Linked DNA regions of Homo sapiens. The protein of the gene in region 2 purifies or fractionates together with the protein of the main gene of each other region. This does not show direct contact. Each region holds a gene or a part of one and is shown on either strand. Other genes may lie near its edges. The genes, in order: TLE3 and OSR2.

Region 1 (3,812 bases), on a different chromosome or scaffold from region 2:
TAATGAAGTCGGCTGGTGTGAAGGGGAGAAAAGTATTTGTTCTCAGATAAAATCTGCCGGGTGGACTAGCCGGGCCCCCTGGTTAACCCTCCAAGCCTGGTGTGAACCTGTACTTAAGAATACAAGTCCTTGCCCCACCCACCCTGTTGATTTCCAGACGGGCCTCTTGGGCCATCAACTCTGCAGCAAACAGCCTCCTAGAATCTGATTCCTTAGCGGTCATGGCCTGACTCTCCAACACGGTGACCCCTCTCCTCCAGCCCTCCCCCAAAAGGTGGCCTCTGCCTAAACATTCACAGTGACAGCTCTGCAGCCCACTGATTGTGCAACATCCTTAGCAAAGAAAAGAATTCAAAATCAATGCTGATGCGAATTCAGACTCTCCCATTACCTCCTTGAGAAACGCAAGGTCCTAAGGACCCTCAGTAGGGCAAGGCTGACCCACAGCTTGCTGCCTGCAAAGGACGATGCTTCAAAACAACAAACCCACCAAATATTCCCCGCTTACATGGCGGCAGGACGTTTCCCCCTTCCTTAAGTTTCTCCTTAACCCCAACTTGAAGGGAACAATTATTTTATAAAGAATTTTTTTTAAATATGTATTTTGAAGGAGAAGAGAAAGCCAAAAGAAGAAAGGAAAAGGAAAAAGGAAGAAAGCATCTTGGCTGTGAGTCTCAGAGAGCATTTGTTGAAAACAAGATATTGTCCCTTTAAGCATATAAAAACAAGGCCCTTGAGCACGCAGTTCTCACTCTGGTACACAATTATGGGTGCTTTCAGCTGTCTAGCACTACTTCAAGTGCTCTCTTAAACCAGACTGTCAATGGCATGTTGAAAGCTATTTTGCTGGCTGCTATCATTAATAGCAAAGTGGAGAGCTGGGCTGATGAGAATTAAATATGGGGGAGGGGGCGGGTCATAACCAGTCATTACAGAATTACCAATATGAGAAAGGAGACAATGCCACTTTGGGGAATAAAGTTCAAAGCAGCATATTACGGTAGGAAAGCAGGCAGAGCAGGCCACAAACGGCCCAGAGCGGGCCCCCGCCCCCGCCCCCACCCCCACCCCGCGGCAGATGGACTCAGGCCAGCCCTGGAGAGCCAGCCATGCAGGGATGCAGGGAGCCACCGGGTGGGGAGCCGCGACTGCAAGGGCAGAGGGGCCTTGGAGATCGCTCTGCTGCAAAATGTCACCACCTCGCCTCACTTCCCAAGTGCAGTCCCCGCCCCACATCATTCCGAAGACGTGTGGCTTCTAGAACATATCTCACTGCCTTGCCGCGAGCTGTTGCCACCCTGGAGGGGCCTCGGCTGCCGACTTCTGCCTCATAAACCCTACCCTCCCTTTCAGACTCGCGCCAAGCAAAGCCCTCAGTGAAGTCTGCTCTCACCCAAGAAGAATAAGCTGTTCTGTGCTGGGTGCTCCTCCTATGACACTTGGGCCACATTAGCACTTACCTCACTGCATTGCAATTACTTCTTTAGACATCCGACTCCCCCGCAGAGGGAATGGTGTCTTATTCGGCTGTGTAACCAACCCCAGCCCACACCCAGCACATCCCAGTCCCCTAATAACTGCTTTGGGAATGAATCCAACCCCCTCATTTCACTGATGAAGAAACTGGATGCTGGGCCATAGGAGGAAGCCTGCAGAGCGGGCGGCCAGCCCACAACTAAAATCCCCACTTCCTACTCACAGGGCTCAGGGAATCGGAACTCTACTCTCAGATAACCTGAGTAAATTTTGAAGAAAAACCAAGATGTTTACTGAGCACCTATTACATACTAAGTGCTATAGAGACCTCAGCAGAGGGGCTTCCTTCATACCTACAAAAATGAGACGAGGAATGAGTGCCAGATCACAGGGGAAAACACTGCCAAGCTTAGGTCTTTGTCACGTTTTTGCCCCTGGTGTCCCAGTATTTTGTACAAACAATGAGACAGAATGACATTCTCCCACGTAGAAAGCAAAAGGAGATTTATTCCTTGACTGACTCACTCCTTCAACAAAATGGAAACAAACAGCCTAGGTGGGAAGGAGGAGTTCAAGGAAAGGAAGAACTCCGTGTCTGCCACGGGCTCCTGGTCCAAGAGAGTTCAGAGAATGAGTCCCGAATTAGGAGCCAGGTTCCCACCCGTTGATCTGTAAAGTAAGGACAAGGGGCCATTTGCTCATCTCCCAGGGTCATTTCAATGACAAATGCACAAGAAGGAAAAGACCCCAAAAGCACTGAAACCCCCACTCTACCACTCCCACTGGCAACTAGAGAAAAGGGGTCCAAAGGCAGTCTTGAGGGGTGGGGCAACCTCCCTCTAGCTAGACAGCATGCAGGGAGCTTGGAGCCCAGCAGACCCCAAAGCTGAGCGAGGCAGGCACCCACTCAGTGAGAGGACTCGTGATTACAGTCTGTTCCAGGGAAGATCAATATAGCAGGAAAAGTCAAGACAGATACCAGGGCATGGGGCCGGGTGGGAGGGTTCTTGGATGCTAGCACTCTGGCAAAAAAGAAAAAAAAAATTTCACAGCTCAACTCAGATGCCACACAAATAGGCACTTCCCTAGTCTAAGGACCTTTGACCCCTTCTACTTTGCAAGTGGTCCCACATTCTCCTATCAAGATAGGCTCAACTCCTTGGCAGAGTCCTTTGTAACCTCATTGCCTGGTAGCTCCCTCTGGCCACCTGTACCTTGCACCTTCACCGTGGTCACAAAACTTCTGTGTGCCTCAAGATCTTCCAGGTGAGCCCCTTATCATTTAGATGAGAAGATCCAGAGCGGGGAGGGGAGGGGAGTGACAAATGGGGATTTTCCATTTCCTACCTCAGCCCTGTGTTTATGGCACCCCATGGCTAGGGTAAAAAGTTCACAGGTTATATATACCACCTTTCCCGGTCTGTGAATCTTTCCTCTGGGATTGCTAGTTATGCATTATGTATTATTATTACACACATCAAATCATTAGTTGTGCAAATAGCTGGCAATTCAAAACAGGACTGTGGACAATAAGGGTTCAGTGATATGATTATACAACCCGAAATGGGGCACTTTGGACTTTGGTGGGGCCAGTTTTGTAGCCTTAGCCTGTTTGGATAATAACACAGAAAGAAGCAATAGTAATTAAAGACACAGAATACACTAGAAAAGGAGCACTCTTCATTTCTTGAGTCTTACAGAAAAGAGTCCTGGGTTGGAAGGGAAGCAGCAGTAGCAGCTTTACCACTAACGTGGGACTGTATGACTGAGTACATAAGCTTCCCTTCTCTGGGCCACCGTTTCCTCATCTGTAACTTGAAAAGTTTGCATGAGAAGCCAAAGGGCTCTTCCAGTTCCAAGATTCAAAGAGAAACTTACAGGAAAGGTTGTTCAGTTCACAGAAAAAGGTGACTGTATTGTGTCGGCACGACACTGCCCCAAAATCAAAATGGCTCAAGTCCACTTTCAAAAATGTCAGTGCTCACCAACAGTGGGTGAAAAGGCTGCCTGACCCAGCTTCTCAGAGAGCCAGTGCCTCAAATCCAATGCATGGCAATTGCTCTGGGGCCCCTGGTTTTAAGCTGGCTTTGTTATTTGTGGCTGACACTGGAAAGCCTCTGCACAAACAAGATGGCAAGTGATGAGCCGGTCAGTCATCACTGCCTTCCCAGACTCTCTGAACCACCCTTGACATTCTGCCTGGAAGCAGGGGGCTTGGTGGAGGTGGGTGACCTCTTGAAGTCCCGGGCCAGGCCTGTGATTCTGTAATCTTTGCTTTACCATAATTAGGGAGGGAGGCAGAAGAGCAGGAGGAGAAACCATTTATTACTTCTCTG
Region 2 (2,891 bases):
TTAACAGCCTCGCAGGATGGGTACAGAAGTCTCATCTCTGGGGAACAGCAGGTAGAGTCCAGAAAAGATACCGCTAAAAAGGTCTCCCCAACTCCTGAGAAGTTTTTACCCAATGATAACACTTACATTATTGAATGCCTTCAATTGCCTTGTATTAATGCAGAGTTTAAGGTCGCGGAAGGGAGGTGGGAGCTGTTTGTAAATTCGGTGACCTCAAGACCTCCTCCCCCTCTCAACCCACAAATACAGCTTAAAAGAAAGGTCCCCACGGCAGGCTCTGGGGCGCACCTGGGTGGAGGGTGGGGGGTGGGGGGAGGGACGAAACCCAACAGAAGTAGCCCGACTGCAGCCAGGACCGGCACCCCAGGGTACCTGGGTTCTGCCTGCACCACTCCCCACAGCACCGGGAGGAGACAGGATAACCATCCCAGGACTAAGGCCAACAGATTGTTCCTGTCCAAGACTGAGGAAAGGCCCTCCCTCATTCCAAACAAGAACGTAGCAAGAGCCGCTGGGGGAAAGAAAGGGTAGATGTTGGGAATTAGCTGAACCGGGCTGAGGAGCGTGACTGAGGGTGTATTTTAGATCACAGGGGATTATAATGACACTGGGAATGTCTATCAGGACTCGGTGTGTCCAGGACAAATTCGCTTTCCCTCTCCCAGCCATCCTCCTTGCCCGCCTCACCTGTGATCCCGCAGGTGATCTTGCCTCCGGAAGGCCTTGTGGCAGATGTCACACGTGTACGGCCTCTCGTCCGTGTGGGTCCTCTCATGGATGAGCAAATTGTAGGATTTGGTAAAGTGTCTGCCGCAAAACTTGCAGATAAACTCTTTTTTCGTTTTGGAGGGCAACCTTCCTCGAGAGGGCTTTCTGTCCGGAGTCAATTTACTGAGGCCCGAGATGGGGCTACCCAGTCCTGGGCTCAGCTTGCTCAGGTCTCCCATCTTAGGCGGATCCTCTTGCGTGGCAGCCACCGCCAAATTGGCAAAGTCAAAACGGGGCCGGTCCTTGTGCAGGGCTGGGAGGACGTGGGCAATGGCCCCCTGCTTGGGGTGGAATAGGTGGGTGGTAAAAGGCAGGGCCGGGAAGGGGAAGCGCGCGTCCACGAGGCCCTGCGCCGCCGCCATCTCCGTGATGGTGGAGCGGGTGATCTCGTGCACATTGGGATACCCCAGCGTCCAGTGGTTCATGTGCATGGTCTGTACCGCGCTGAGACCGTACAGGCCCTGCAGGTGGTCCACCGTGGCCGGGAAGGTGTTCACGGCCTGCAGGAAGGAGTAATTGGTGAGCTGCAGCGACGGGTGGAGCGGGATGGGCGCTGGCAGAGCCTTGCTCCCCATTTTCCGGGATGCTGGGGGTGCTGAGGGGACCAACCCTTTCTTCCAGGAATCAGAGGCCGGAGGGCGTGGGGCTCCGACAAAAACCCAGTGAGACAACAGCACGTAGAGAAAGCCCTAAAAATGGCAGGGAAGAGAGGGAGAGACCGTGACTATAATCCAAGGCTGCTCCTTCTGCCCTTTGGCACCTGCGCAGGTTACCACACCTAAGTCTCCCTCCCCACCCGACTCCAAGACCCCCCGAAAGCCGTGAGGGGACTGCGTGGCACCTTGGCACCTGCTCAAGTCCGCGTGCAGATCAGCCCGGGGCCAGAACAAGAAGTGCTCCACTGGCGAGCGCGTGCCCAAAGGAAAGAAAGTCGGATTCAGACTCTAGGCAGATACGGAGCGGAAGACTCCTCGGTCCCAGGAAAACGAAAGGCGGACAGCCGGGCAGCACCCAGCCCAGCCCAGCCCAGCCCAGCCCACCCTCCCCAAGCCTGTTAGGCGAAGCTCAGTCAACCGCAATGCCAATGCTAGCAGGCCGGGGCGAACCTCTGTCGCCGCTGCGCCTCGGAGCTCCTGGGAACGGTGGGTTAACGGATGGGTCGTGAGATCCCACGCGCTGCGCTGCCGCCGCGCCCTGTGGCCGCCTTTCCCGCGCTTACCCGGATGGCAAGCCGGCGTGCAAGAGCGAAGCCGGCGCGCTTCATCCTCCTGGGCCAGAGGGCCCTGGGAGGGGCTCACCTCGCCCCGCACTGACCTCGGAGGTTTTCTTTTTCCTTCCTCTGCCCTCAGCCCCATCTATCAGCGGTGACGGGCCGCAGGAAAGAAAAGTGACACCTCAGGGGCTGGATTCGGCCTAGAATCGCCCCCTCCTCCTATCCACGGGCTCTCCTCCCAACCCCCGACTAAGATCCCTTCCAGATGGTTCAGGCTCCCAGGGGGTGGGGTGGGGGCGGAGAACGTCCCTGAGGCCAGAGGAACCCCTTTTCCCAGACTGAGCGCCAAGCTCTTGGGAGGCCTGAGCTGCTTCCCGGCCTGGCACCGAGGAGCGACCCCTACATCCCTCCACCCGGGATGCCCCAGGAGACGAGAGAGGAGAGAGAAGAGAGGGGAGAGGAGAGAGGAGAGCGCTCCGGGGAGGGAGAGGAAAGGAGCTGCAGGGGAGCTGCAGTAGGCCAAGCACAGAGTGGCCCTGCTGGCTTGCAGGAACCTTGTCCGTTGGCCTGGAGGTGAGTGCGGCTGCGGTCCCACCACCAGGACGCCCGGCCTGGGCCTAAGCAGGGCGCTTCCCCTCTCTCCGTGCTCCCAATGGCAACACAGGTCTGATTTCAGACCCAGGTTCCCGGGATCACCTCACCTACATTCACAGCGGGCCCACCTTCTCCCACTACCAGCCCCTTTTTAGAAAGGAGTTCTGCCAGTTCGGGGGACCAGGGCCTTCCCTCTGAGGGCAGACCCCCAGGTGTAGGAGTCACGTTTCCCAGTCTGTGCCACCAACCGCCAAGCCTGGCATTTGAACCCAGCAGGAAGGCAGGAGAGACTCCAGCCTTCCCTTCCCACCCAACC

What was found.
Region 1: the proteins of OSR2 (region 2) and TLE3 purify together in Homo sapiens (affinity purification with mass spectrometry; one large-scale study listed by BioGRID and IntAct). This does not show direct contact.

The regions. Positions count from the first base shown.
Region 1 is NC_000015.10:70,087,830-70,091,641, forward strand, and holds part of TLE3 (transducin-like enhancer protein 3), read right to left. Parts: intron 1-3,812. UniProt on the Homo sapiens protein: Transcriptional corepressor that binds to a number of transcription factors. Inhibits the transcriptional activation mediated by CTNNB1 and TCF family members in Wnt signaling.
Region 2 is NC_000008.11:98,947,405-98,950,295, reverse strand, and holds part of OSR2 (protein odd-skipped-related 2), read right to left. Parts: intron 2,124-2,891; coding exon of another isoform or gene 1,875-2,123; intron 1,780-1,874; exon of another isoform or gene 1,610-1,779; intron 1,458-1,609; coding exon of another isoform or gene 1,344-1,457; coding exon 688-1,343; intron 1-687. UniProt on the Homo sapiens protein: May be involved in the development of the mandibular molar tooth germ at the bud stage.